Homo sapiens: one gene and its partner. The protein of the gene in region 1 interacts with the protein of each later gene in a biochemical or structural test. Each region holds a gene or a part of one and is shown on either strand. Other genes may lie near its edges.

Region 1 (7,034 bases):
GTCCATTGCTTTGTCTCAGAATGCAGGCAGGTCTGGCCCTGCAGGAAAGTCCCTGCCCAGGGTCAGCCCCAGCCAAGAGCTCCACGTGCTATCCCATGAGATCTGAGCCTGTTCCATCTTCCCTTCCTTCTCAAAGCCAGTCATCCCAGCTGATTCAGAAGGGGAGCTGGATGAGGTTCTCCAGATCCTCTTTTTCCCCATGATAAGCCAATGTCTCCTCTGGAGGAAACCATGAACTGTGCCAACGCGTCTGTCTGCCACTGTCCTCGGGTCCTCATTCTGAGGAATGATCTGGATTCAGCTTTTCATTAAAGACCAAACATCCTTGTACATTTGGAACATGAAAGATATTTAAAATATTTATATATATATAATATATATATATACTTTTATTATTCACCCGTTAACTCCATTATATGCCAATCACGAGCTAGTTTTCAGCAGTTACATTCCCTTGATCACGGCTGCATGAGGATGTAATTAACTGGAAAACACGGAGACCAGAGACACGACCGGAGGTGACGTCACGCAGCCCACGCCATCGCAATACAATTGTCAAGTTCGCTGGCGGTTTGGTAAAGCCGGTTCAGTTCTGCTCCCTTTGCCAGGGATTCTCACGTGTGTGAAAATTGGACCAACAGTGGTGGGGTTCCATTTCCTGGTTCGAATTTTCAGTGGCTTTATCCAGAATCGCACTGGTGACTGGTTATTGTAGCACCAGTCCAACCTAGGAAAGCCAACAGGGAGAGGCAGAGCTGAGTTGACAGTGGCCCAAAGACTCTCCCACACCCCCTATCCCTGAAGTTCCGAGTGGCTGGGCCCGGGTCCACCGCCTGTGCTGTGGGAGCAGACTCACACCCAGCCGGCCCCACACTCAACCTCCACACCAGGGTTCACACGTCCATCAGACCTCCCAGGGAAAACTGGCCCACGCTCCAGCTCACCCCTATGTCCCCTGTGGCACTGGGGGAGGAAGGGCTAAGAAAGTGTCATGCCAGAAGAGGGCAGCAGCTCAGGAGAGGAAACCTCCTCAGAGTTCCCCCAGCCCTACCCTCCTGGCAAACCGTGGGCAACTCAACTTCCACGGTTCCCTCACGTGGGAAGGCCTCATTGGAGATGATCTTCGTGCTACTGTGTGGCTCTGTCCCCTCTGCCATCCTCACACCAGTTGCTGAGAGGGGAACGCTGACCTGCTGGTCTGGCCAGCAGAGGGAGGGCATTTTCAAAGGTTCAACTCGAGGTAACAAGGACCCAGACTGCGGCTGTCTCCTCAACCCATGGCCCGGTTTCTGCTGGAGACATGGACACCCTGGGCCGGGCAGCCTGGACTCTGGCTATGTGTCGCCTACCTTCTCTGCCCCCATGCTGGGGCATTTCCAATTGTAAAGGTAATACTGCAGGTTGCCGTCCCCTATGCCAAACTTGAGCTTCTCCAGGAAGGTTTTGTTCTCCATGAGATCCAGTGCATTGAACACATCAAACCCTTTCTGCAAAGCAGCAGGGACAAACAAGAACAGGTGAGGACAGGTGGGGACAGCCTCCTTCCTACCCCTTTGCTGCCATTTCAAAGCTGTCCTGTGGGCAGCCACAAGAACAAGGTTCCCTCAGAAGCTCCGCTGCTTCCACGTTAATCCCCGCTCTCCGGGTGGTTCTCAGGACACTCTGAGCGCCCCCTCCAGCCTGGCCTCTGCCCAGTGTCCCTCAGAGTGTACACATATGTACTCAGTGTCCAGGCCGGGGCTCTTGCTATTCCTGGTTATGCCTCCCTGAAACTCTAGTAATTTCCACAGTCCTCTCTGGAGTCCAAACCCTGAGCCCATTCCTCTGAGAAGCTGGCTCTGGTCAGCTACATGGGGTTTGTGTTGCTTCCTTACTCCATGGATGCCCCAACTCTCAGGCCCTCAGTGCACCTCATGTTGTATGACACCTGCTGTGTTGCTTGGAGACTGTGAAGATGCTTCCTAAACCTCACCAACTGGAGCAGAAGCTCTCACAGGGCAGGGACCAGATTGCCTACAGCAGGCTGGGCTGGGCTGGGCACAGGTTACCAGAACCCACAGCAAAGCACTGACAGACGGGCTCGCCATCCGCTACTGGCAGTTGGATGCTCCAATGACTCACCACGACAGACAGCAATCACCCCTTTCCCACGCTGGGAAAGCTGTGAGGAGAAGCCCTGTCCTCCCAGGGAAGGCCTGGCTATTCAGGCTCCTTGGTGGCGCCTCCTGTGAGAACGAAACTCACTGAAATGAATCAGGAGGAGTTCAATGCCTTCACTTCGGATGCTCCTTGTTCCCTCCAAGTTTTGAGTTTCTGCCTAAAAACTGCGGGAACCCTGCCTAAGCAGAACAGATGAGGAGGGCTCAGAGCCTCCAGCCCATGGGAGGCTGCGTCCCGGGAGCTGTGCTCACCATGGCTCCACTGCCTCTTCCCTGCACATCTCCAGAGACCCCCCCGTCTGCTCCTCACCATTTTGGCGAGGACAAGGGCGTCGCTCATGAGGTCTAGAAGAGGGGTCTGGGTGTGAACGTTGTAGAAAGAATAAGCAGCTTTGAGACTCTTGTGGGTTGGATGGTTCATGATGGTGGAGGGCAGCGTATAAAAGCTCAGGAAATCTGTCACCTCTCCGTTTGCGTTCTGAAGGGAAGGCAATAAAGAGGCAATGTCAAGCATGCACAGTGGCACTGCGGCCCGGGAACAAAATGTTTCTCTCACTCCACCTTCAGGCAGCTCTGCCCCTCTAGATAAATGGCTGGAAACTGCAACAGGACATGTGGGGAGGAGGAGGGACATTGGCTCAGGGCACTTGAGGACAGAGCCGTGATCGTGGGCTGAACCTGCCAGACCTCTTTCCCAGCATGGGCACCGCCAGGGACCTCTTCTTGCAGCTCACATCCCCCCAGACTGTGTCTCCTATGTCTGGTCAGCACTGGGTTAAGCTGGGACAGGCAGGGAATTGCAGGCTTTCCTGAAGGATTAAGCGGGGCTCAGTTCTCTCTATTTTGTGTTATCAAAGTGGGGCAGAGGGGGAGAAGGGCTCAAGCCAGATCCAGAGGTATCTTTTCAGCAAATTCAAGCACCAACTCCCTGTTTTTAGGGAGGACCAAACACGGATGGTCAAGGAAGTCTAAGGTGCCAACACTCGAGCCCTGGGAACCCGGCCACTCAGGGGGGTGCCTCTCTGGGAACGTGTTAGAGACCTGGAACACCACTCCCTGACTCACCTCCACCACGAAAGTGTCGATGATATTCTCCTGGGGGTAGAACCAGTGCTCCACCTCCTCCTGGCTCATGACGGGCGTAAGGTGAAATTGCTTCAAGTACCTGGTGAGGAGCTGGTGCACTACTGGAATGTCCTTTGTTTCCATTGGTCGCAGCCCAGCTGTCTTGGGAGTCTGGAGGCAAGACAGAAGAGATGGAGTGAGATGAGCTGATCACCCTGGATCTATCCATGGCAAGGACAGATCAGGCCCTCAAGAGAGAATCCCTGGTCATTCGGCGGCTCCCTGCACCCCCGTGCATATCTCCTCAGGCACAGGGCCTGCCTCTTCCGTATCTTCTGGCCCTTTCCCTCCTAGTCCAGGCAGACTCAGACTGCTACATCAATCAACCATCTACATGGCCCCAGGCTGACTCCCTAAGAAAACACAACCCTTCATGCTCCACCCTTGTTTCAAACTCCCCACCCCAGAAGACAAGAATTTCTACCCTTGGGCCAGGTTGGCCTTTCTAGCTGTACCTTCTGCCCACGCAGCCCAACAGTCCTCACAGGCTTCTCACTGAACTGTGACTGATGCCATCCCACACTCACTGCTCTTTCTCTGCTAGACTTAGAGCACTTCGCGGACAGACCCCAGGGCCCAGCCAGGGTCTGCCCACCCAGACACTATTACACCAGTACTTCCCAGAGAGACACGGCTGTGGGTTACATTCAGAAGAAAAGCAGCATACTCCCAGGATTTTATCCCCAGTCAGCGTCCCACCCGGCAGCTGCTTTTGCTAGAAAAATGCTTCAGTGGAATGAAACCATGTGATCCTGTGGAGCAAATACCGGGGCTGGTAGAACATCCCCAGAGGCTCAGATACACAAAGGTGGCCTTGGGGCAATCTGCAAACAGGGTGGTGTCACAGTTTACAGGCCTCAGTCAGTGCCTGACACAATGCTTCCCAGTGCAGGAATTGCTTTTAAAACTTCAGTTCTAGAACCTCCAGCCTCTAAAATTCCTTGCTAAATCCTCGTCTCTTTAGGGGAACGCTCAATGACCTCATTCTACATGGCAGCTCCCACAATGATACCTCAAATCCTGGACTGAAAACACAGCCATGCTGGGGTTTCCACCCAGACATGGGTGAGACATTCTTCTGCTGCTGCAGCACTCTAAGAATGCTCTCTGCCTGCCTGCCCACCGGCCTAGAACGCAAGGCAGATCTGTCATGAGAACAGAAGGGAGAAGACACATACCACAGTCCCCCAAGCCTGTGCTTTTGGCAGTGTCTAACGGTACTGCAGCAGTCTCTCAAGATGGGACACTAATGACCCCAATCACTAGGTGGATTAGCCTGATTTCAGAGTGATCAATCCTGTTTAGAGGCTGAGGAGTCCAGGCAGGCAGCCTCATGTCAGCAGGAACGCAGTGACTGTGTGCACTGATGACCAATAGGAAGAAGCACTCCGAGGAAAGAGAAGAGATTTTTTCTTTCTTTCCTTTTTTTTTTTTTTTTTTTTTTGCGACGGAGTCTTGCTCTGTCGCCAGGCTGGAGTCCAATGGTGCGATCTCGGCTCGCTGCAACCTCTGCCTCCCAGGTTCAAGCAACTCTGCTGCCTCAGCTTCCCAAGTAGCTGGGATTACAGGCACATACCACACCCAGCTAATTTTTGTGTTTTTAGTAGAGACAGGGTTTCACCATGTTGGCAGGATGGTCTCAATCTCTTGACCTCGTGATCCACCCGCCTTGTCCTGCCAAAGTGCTGGGATTACAGGCGTGAGCCACCGCCCACCTGAGAAGGGATTTTAAGAATCCCTACTGGGATGGGCACAGTGGCTCATGCCTGTAATCCCAGCACTTTGAGAGGCTGAGGTGGGTGGATCACTTGAGCCCAGGAATTCAGATGAGCCTGGGCAACATGGCAAAATCCTTTTTTTGTTGTTGTTGTTTTTTTTGAGATGGAGTCTCGCTCTGTGGGCCAGGCTGGAGTGCAATGGCGCTATCTCAGCTCACTGCAAGCTCCGCCTCCCGGGTTCACGCCATTCTCCTGCCTCAGCCTCCCGAGTAGCTGGGACTACAGGCGCCCACCACCAAGCCCGGCTAATTTTTTTTTGTATTTTTAGTAGAGACGGGGTTTCACCATGTTAGCCAGGATGGTCTCGATCTCCTGACCTCGTGATCCACTCGCCTAGGCCTCCCAAAGTGCTGGGATTACAGGTGTGAGCCACCGCGCCTGGCCTTCTTTTTTTTTTTTTTTTTTTTTTTTTTTTTTTTTTGAGACGGAGTCTTGCTCTGTTGCCTAGGTTGGAGTGCAGTGGTGCGATCTTGGCTCACTGCAAGCTCCGCCTCCCAGGTTCATGCCATTCTCCTGCCTCAGCCTCCCAAGTAGCTGGGACTACAGGTGCCCGCCACGCCACGACCAGCTAATTTTTTGTATTTTTATTAGAGACAGGGTTTCACCGTGTTGGCCAGGATGGTCTCGATCTCCTGACCTCGTGATCCGCCTGCCTTGGCCTCCCAAAGTGCTGGGATTACAGGCGTGAGCCACCACGCCCAGGCTTCTTTTATTTTGAGACGGAGTCTCGCTCTGTCGCCTAGGCTGGAGTGCAATGACGTGATCTTGGCTCACTGCAAGCTCCACCTCCCGGGTCCATGCCATTCTCCTGCCTCAGCCTCCCAAGTAGCTGGGACTACAGGCACCCACCACACCACGACTGGCTAATTTTTTATATTTTTACTAGAGACGGGGTTTCACCGTGTTAGCCAGGATGGTCTTGATCTCCTGATCTCGTGATCTGCCCACCTCAGCCTCCCAAAGTGCTGGGATTACAGGCGTGAGCCACTGCGCCTGGCAGCAAAACCCCGTTTCTATAAAAACAAAAATTGGCCGGGCATGGCGGCACACGCCTGTAGTCCCAGCTACTTGGGAGGCTGAGGTGGGAGAATCAGTTGAGTCTGGGAGGTCGAGGCTGCAGTGAGCTGTGACTGTGCCACTGCACTCCAGCCTGGGCAACAGAATGAGACCCTGTCTCAAAACAAAAAAAAAAGAATCCCTACCTGAAGCCAGCCACAGTTGGAGCATTTGTTTCTTTGGGAAACTAGGAAAACTGAGACCCAGAACAGAAAAGCAGCTCACTTTAAGGTTGCCCAGTCCTTCAGCCAAATCTGGGTGGGGAAATTGGGATTAGAAATCGGGGATCCCTCACAAGCTCAGGTCACCCTTTACCTGACCCGGCAGAGGGGCGTCACAGACCCTGTAGTGCATCTGCGCTGGGCTTTGGAACGCGCTGCCGTGTGTATGAAGGTTCACTAAGTGGATTCATCATTCTATTTATGCTTTACTTAGGCTAAAATTACAGAGAATAGGTGTTCTCTGAGCCTTTCAACAGATGGCAGAGAAGCTAGTCCAGGCACAGACTCAGAGGAACTGAGAAAGTTAAACTAAAATAAAATCCTGCTTCAGATAACAGAAATAGAAAGTCCAGGAAATCTGAAGACTATGGGCTGGTTCGCTTTTCCAGTAGGAGAAAGCTCCCTCTCCACCCAGAGCCCTTCTCTCCTGCTGACAGCCAGGCTCTCCTTGCCCTCTCTCTGCCCCCTGCCCACCACCCGGGGCAGCACTGGCCTCTGGCAGTCGGTAGAGCTTCATGGTGCGCTGCATGGTCATATTTCTGCTCAGGTGGGAGAACTTCACTTCAATCAGCTTCCGTGGGTTTAGGGACCGATGCCAATACCTGTGGGGACACAAATGTCCTGTCCTCAGGGTTCTGGCCAATCCCTATTACAAGGACAATGGCAGGGAGACCCCAGCTGGCCAGCAGGTGGCG
Region 2 (7,034 bases), on another chromosome or scaffold:
CTACCATAGTGCTGGGATTACAGGCATGAGCCACAGCGCCTGGCCTAGCTCATCTCTTTTTAGCACTGAGCAATATCCCATTGTCTGGATGTGCCCCCGTTTATTTATCCATCACTTACTGAAAGGACACCTTGGTTGTTTCCAAGTTTGGACAATTATGAATAAAGCTGCTATAAGCATCTATGTACAGATTTGTGTGGACATAGGTTTTCAACTCATTTGGGTAAATACCTGCCCTTCCCTCTCACCTGGTGGCTCTTCCCATTTTGGGGGGCTCTAATTATTTATAACCTCCTCCAGGAAGTCTTCCCTAATCCCTCCCTGCAACTTGGCACAGGCGCCCCCTCTATAGCAGCCCCCTGTGCTTCCCCCAGCACACATGGATTATGCTATTGTTTTCTCTGGTTTTCTTGCTGGTTTTGAGCTCTTCGAGGCAGAGACCAGATCTTAGCACACAGCAGATGTACAATGCATCCTCGTAGGATGAATGGGGGATGCCAGGCTTTCAAGAGCAAGGCTGTCATCTGTGGTGGGCGCTACCTGGATACAGGGAGACCTGAGATTTCCAGATCTGGTGATAACAAAGCCTTCTCTCCAACTATCCACGCTCCCTGGCCTTGAAGGCCAACTGCTCCTGAGAGAAAACCTCCCAGCCTTTGTGTTCTGGACACTCACGGTCTCTGGCACATGCTTATCTTGTCTTTCTGCTCAGAATGCAAGTTCCTGGTGTGCAGAGTCAACATTTTACCCTTTCCCTGTATCCCGTAGTGCCTCACATGGCGTCATGCACAAGACTGCATTCTGCTGTGATTTCAGGCCTGGGGCTGTGCCCCAGCTCTGCCTCTTAGTAGGCAGGCAATCTTGAGCTAGTTATATTACTTCTCTGAGCCTCAGTTTCCTCATCTGTAACATGAGGTTATAATAATGCAATCCATAGAGTCATTCTGAGAATTAAATGTAAGAATATGTGTAAAGCTACTTAGTACAATGACTGCACATAAGTGTACAGTAAATTATAACTATTATGATTACTATTGATTCTTTAAAAAGAAAGTCTTTGAGGCTGGGCGCGGTGGCTCACGACTGTAATCCCAGCACTTTGGGAGGCTAAGGCGGGTGGATCACTTGAGGCCAGGAGTTCGAGACCAGCCTGGCCAACATGGTGAAACCCTGTCTCTACTAAAAATACAAAAAATTAGCCAGGCATGGTGGTGCACCCCTATAGTCCCAGCTACTCGGGAGGCTGAGCCACAAGAATCACTTGAACCCGGGAGGCGGAGGTTGCAGTGAGCCGAGATTACGCCACTGCACTCCAGCCTGGGCGACAGAGCAAGACCCTGTCTTAAAATAAATAAATAAATAAATAAATAAATAACCTTTCACTGAGCACTAGCTGTGTTATGCAAGAAATGCAGTGATTAAGAAAATAGGGTTCTTCTTTCAAAGTTCAGAGTCAACTGGGAAGACAACTCTAACCAGCAGTTAGGGGACAGTGTGAAGAACAGGTGAGCCTGACGTGCTGTGAAAACCCAGAAAAGAGGAAGTTCAGTTTGAGGAACCAGGGAAGGGTGCTAGAAGAAGGAGTCCCACTGTCGAGTCATGAAGAATGTCCCTTGGGCTAACAGAACTTAGCCCAAGTAAAAAACAGGATAGGCCAGATGCAGTGGCTCACACCTATAATCCCAGCACTTTGGGAGGCCAAGGCGGGTGGATCACCTGAGTTCAGGAGTTCCAGACCAGCCTGGCCAACATAGTGAAACCCCATCTCTACTGAAAATACAAAAACTAGCTGGACGTGGTGGTAGGCGCCTGTAATCCCAGCTATTCGGGAGGCTGAGGCAGGAGAATCGCTTGAATCCAGGAGGCAGAGGTTGCAGTGAGCTGAGATCGTGCCATTGCACTCCAGCCTGGAGTACAAGAGCGAGACTTTGTCTCAAAAAAAAAAAAAAAAAGAACAGGATAAAAGCCCTCCTGGTGGCCAGGCACAGTGGCTCACGCCTGTAATCCCAGCACTTTGGGAGGCCGAGGCGGGTGGATCACTTGAGGTCAGGAGTTCAAGACTAGCCTGGTCAACATGGTGAAACCCCGTCTCAACTGAAAATACAAAAATTAGCCGGGCATGGTGGTGGGCGCCTGTAATCCCAGCTACTTGGGAAGCTGAGGCAGGAGAATCACTTGAATCTGGGAGGCGCAGTTTGCAGTGAGCCAAGATCCTGCCACCACACTCCAGCCTGGGCAACAGAGTGAGACTCTGTCTCAAACAAACAAACAAACAAACAACAACAAAAAAGCCCTCCTGGCAAAAAGATCAGTGTATTCAAGAGGGACCCTAGCAGCTTCACTGATCACAAGTATTTTGGTGGAGTGTGAATGAAGGACTGTTGAGTTGTGGCTGGGGAGGTGAGCTGTGGTCAGATCTTAGGGAGCCTGAGTGTCCAGTTGAGGAATGTAATGTTCAGAAAACACCTACCGTGGATGGATGCATGCGTGGGTAGACAGATAAATGGATAGAGAAGGATGGGTGCAGATGGACACAGGGATGGGTGAATGGATGAGTAGATGGATATAGATGAGGAAATGACTGAACAGATAGATGGATAGATCAATGCAAGTATGGGTAGAAGTATATGCAGACGAAGAGACATGAATGTGTGAATGGAAGTATAGAAGTGTGAACACATAGAGAGATCTATATGAGTAGATGAATACATAGATAGATTCATGGGTGAATGTAGAGAAGAATGAATAGATGCACGAATGGACAGATAAATGCATGGATAAATTGCTATAGGAATGATTGCTTAGAGATGGAGGAATGGATAAATAGGCATCTGGACAGATAAGGAGATAAACAGATGAAAAATGGAGAGATAGATATGGAAAGATGGACAGATAGATGAATAGGTAGATGAATGGATGGACAGATGGATGGATAGGTGGATGGATGGATGGATGGATGGATAGATATGTAGACGAATGGATGGACGGATGGATGGATGGATAAATGGATGGATGGATGATGGACAGATAGATAGATAGGTAGATGAATGGATGAATGGATAAATGGACAGATGGATGGATAGGTAGAGGATGGATGGATGGATAGATGGGTAGATAAATGGATGGATGGATGGATGGTGGACAGATGGATAGATAGGTAGATGAATGGATGGATAAATGGACAGATGAATGGAAAGGTAGAGGATGGATAGATGGATGGACAGATGCATGAATAGATGCATGGGGAAGGGATGGGAGATGGATTAGACGGGGGCATGGACGGAGGGATAAGAGGATGAAAGGGCTGGGGGTTGGAAAATTAGGGCGGATTGATGGTTGCATGATGGATACACAATTGGAGGGCTCCATGGATGGCCACTGCTGGCTTGCTTCTCTCCCACTTTCAAGCCCCACCTACCTTCAAAGTCCACTCGTCCATCCCCATTGAGGTCCACATCTCGGATAATTTCCTCTATGTCTCGGTGTCCCACCTGATGACCCAGGAGCTTCCTCATAGCCTCTCGCAGCTCACTGGTGCTTATTTCCCCATCACCATTGGTGTCAAACTAGAGAAGGCAGGAAGGAAGGAGAGGTCGCCCCAGCATGGCGATTGGCAGCAGCAGATCCCAAAGTTGAGCTCCTTCTCCAGTGTCATTGCCCCCCTTTACCAGAGACCTTTCTCTGTCCAAGCTCCCTCCCCTGATCTGGGACTTGAGGCTCAGGCTTCTTTTGAAGTATTTATACTGCAGATAGGATTCCAATAGCCGCCCCATGCCTGCCTGCCTCTGTCCGTTACCTCTCGGAAAGCATCTCGCAGTTCCTTTACACCAATCATATCTGCTGTCTCTGCCAGGAGTTTAGGCCCCATTAGCTCCACGAAGTCATCAAAATCTACATGGCCACCCACTGGAAAAGGAGGAAAGGGCTAGGTCATCCCCGACATACCCATTCCCTGTCTCCAACTAGACAACTGACAGAATGGACAACCCCTCCTTGACCTGCTCATCAGATAGAGACAAACTTAATAATAACAAGAGCCCTCTGTTCAGTTCTTCCTGTGAGCCAGTTATTGGGCTGTTTTACAGATATTCCCTAATCTACTTTCTGGGCTCCACTCCTCCAATTCGGCCCTCATTTTACAGGTGAGGAAACTGAGGCTCAGAGAGGGTAAGTGGTTGGCCCCAGATCACAGAGCTGGTAAGAGGTGGATGCAGAATTTGAAGCCAGTCCTGTCTGACTGCAGAGGACGGCAAGGGTGAGGACCGAAGGGACGCAGATGCCTGGTAGAGGGACTCACGGTTCATGTTGATCTGCTGGGACAGTTCGATGAGCTCCATCTCGGTGGGCATGTAGCCCATGGTGCGCATGCAGTTGCCCAGATCCCGGCAGTTGATGTAGCCATCCTTGTCCTTGTCGAATTCTCTGAAGGCCTCTCGGAGCTCTGGGGAAGTGAGCAAAGGTGGATGTGGTCAGGGGTAGGACCCGCAGAGCCTCTGTGGGCAAAGGCAGCCCAAAGGCCCACCGGCATGGAAAGAGAGGCCCAGGAGCTTCCCAGGATGCTGGGGCATTTCTCTTGCCTCCTGTGCACACCTTCAGCAGCTGGTTTCACAGAAGATACCCCGCGTTGCACCAGGCCCCATTTCCAGGGGCCTCTCTTCCCATCAACCTCCCTTCCCACACCTTCCTAGAGGGCTAGGCAGTCCTTTCCCCCAAGGGGCCAAGTTTTACCTTCAATTTCCTCTGGTCGCAGTGATCTATCCTGAAACAAAAGAACATGTCCTATTAGCCGCGACAAGGGACCTGGAAGTCACAAAATACCTAACCTGGGGGCCATCCACGTGGCAGCAGGCACTGGGTAGGAGGTGACGAGGATGCAGCACAGGTGTGCCTGGATCAGGTCCTTGAGGGGAGAAGAAAGCCCCACATCTCCCTTAGACATAGAAGCTCCTGGGCCCCTAACAGGAGATGCCCAAGAAGCCACCAGCCCCACCAGCCTGGGCACAGAACCTCTGTGCCTCCAGCCCCTTGTTCCAGATACAAGAATGGGTCAGCAGGAGTTTGAGGCTGTAGTGAGCTATGATGGTGCCATTGCACTCTGTCACCCTGGACAACAGAGTGAGACCCTGTCTCAAAAAAAAAAAACAAAAAAAGAATGAGTCAGAGAACAGAGCTTGCCTGGTGGCAAAAACCTGCAAATAAAACAGAGTCCAGGGAGGTCACAACAGGGAAAAGAGAGCACCACCCAATGAAACAGGAAGAGCAGGGCGACAGAGGCTGCAAGACAACAGAAGAGGCGCAGGAGGGGAGGGAAGGCAGGGCCATCCTGAAGCGAGGGTAGGAGGACAGGGAGGAGTCAGGAGGAGACGTGGCAACAGAATGGGGCTGTGACTGCTTCGCGGGCACTGCCCCACCTTCTCCAATTTGACCCCCATCCCTGTACGTTCCCCTGTCATGGGATCACAGGACACCACATAGGACCCCGGGGGCCACCAGTGCTTCTGGCTGGAGCCAGGGTCCAAAAAGCACATGTCTCCAGCCTCAAGCAGTGCCCAGGTCTCCTGGGCAATCAAGGCAACCCTGAATCTAGGCGTCAGAACAGATGGCAGAGACATCTCCAAGGAGCAGGCCTGGAGGAAGCTCAGGTTGGTGAGCTGCCAGTTGCCCTGGGCCTGCCCAGGAGGGAGATAGACTGGCATGAAATGGATACAGGTGCCCAGCTGGACCTGGTTAGTAGACTCCAAAAGTGGCCTTCAGCGTCCAGCCTCCCGCATGTTGCAGCTCTTTGCCTTTGGGCAGGGAGGACACCAGGCAGGTGTGCCCGTCCTGAAGAGGCTCACACAGGTATGGCCATACCTCCCACGAACACAGACACGCAGGCATGCCACAGTGAGCGTGTGGCACCTCCACTGTGCATGCAGGCCGTTCCAGCCAACGGGGCCAGGATGAGTAGAGACAGCCACTCCAAACTGGCCCCAGGACAAAAGACGACAACACCAGAAAATCTGCAGATCATCTAGAAAGGGAAGGGCTGCTGAGTCACATCTCATGGGACAACCAGGTGCATAGGACCAAGAGCTCAGAGGTAGCTCTGTGTGGCAGGACAGCGTTGAGAGTGTGTGTGAGCTTGGAGGGAGCAGGCTGCAAGCTCCCAGCTCCGCCAGGCTGGGGGTAGGAGTCACCCATAGGGAGGCGTGTCTCTGAGATGACTGCATGGACGTTCACCTAAAAAGCTCGCTATGGGCCAGGCACGGTGGTCCACGCCTGTAATCCTAGCACTTTACGAGGCCAAGGCGAGGGGATCACTTGAAGCCAGGAGTTCGAGACCAGCCTGGGCGATATAGTGAGACCTCGTCTCTACCAAAAAACCTTGTTTTAGTTAGCCAAGCATGGTGGTTCACGCCTGTAGTCCCAGCTACTCGGGAGGCTGAGGCAGGAGAATCACTTGAGCCTGGGAGGCAGAGATTGCAGTGATCCAAGATTGCACCACTGCACTTCCACCTGGACAAGAGAGTGAGACTCTGTCTCAAAAAAAAAAAAAAAAAAAAAAAGCTGGTGATGGTGCCTGGCTTAAGGGTAGGTCACAGCCATTCCAACACAAACCCATATGTTCGTAGATGTTTTTGGGTGACCAAAAAGGATGTTTTGTGCAATGGGTCATACCAGCAGTCTGTGAAAGCGAGTGAGTAAGCACACGTGTGTACACATACATGCAGAGCACACGCCCTAGGACCAGCTACTGAGACCCAATAAATCCTTTCCCACGCATCAGGCCTTAAGCAGCCTCCCACTTCTCCAAGGCCCAGTTCTGCAGGACTCGGGAGGAACAGGCATTGCTGACCCCATGGCAGCCCCTTCCGTTCCTCCTGTACACCCAAAGCCCCGGGGGCAGCAAAGCCAGGTGCCCCTTCACGGAGTGTGCCCGCCACCAGAGCTGGTCTGCTGAGCACTGATGGCTGGTCCTTGGATCACACACCCCATGCACAGCAGTAGCTATGTGTGTTCTCTGCCCTGGAGTAGAGCCAGGGATGCCCACT

Evidence for each region. Proteins that work in one complex are often made in the same cells at the same time.
Region 2: of the proteins of NMT1 (region 1) and CABP1, one has a biochemical effect on the other in vitro, tested with the Homo sapiens proteins (one study listed by BioGRID).

Annotation. Positions count from the first base shown.
Region 1 is NC_000017.11:45,099,312-45,106,345, reverse strand, and holds part of NMT1 (glycylpeptide N-tetradecanoyltransferase 1), read right to left. Parts: intron 6,942-7,034; coding exon 6,833-6,941; intron 3,396-6,832; coding exon 3,225-3,395; intron 2,638-3,224; coding exon 2,470-2,637; intron 1,488-2,469; coding exon 1,350-1,487; intron 728-1,349; coding exon 707-727; 3' UTR 1-706.
Region 2 is NC_000012.12:120,657,603-120,664,636, reverse strand, and holds part of CABP1 (calcium-binding protein 1), read right to left. Parts: intron 4,760-7,034; coding exon 4,729-4,759; intron 4,442-4,728; coding exon 4,298-4,441; intron 3,907-4,297; coding exon 3,797-3,906; intron 3,567-3,796; coding exon 3,419-3,566; intron 1-3,418. UniProt on the Homo sapiens protein: Modulates calcium-dependent activity of inositol 1,4,5-triphosphate receptors (ITPRs). Inhibits agonist-induced intracellular calcium signaling.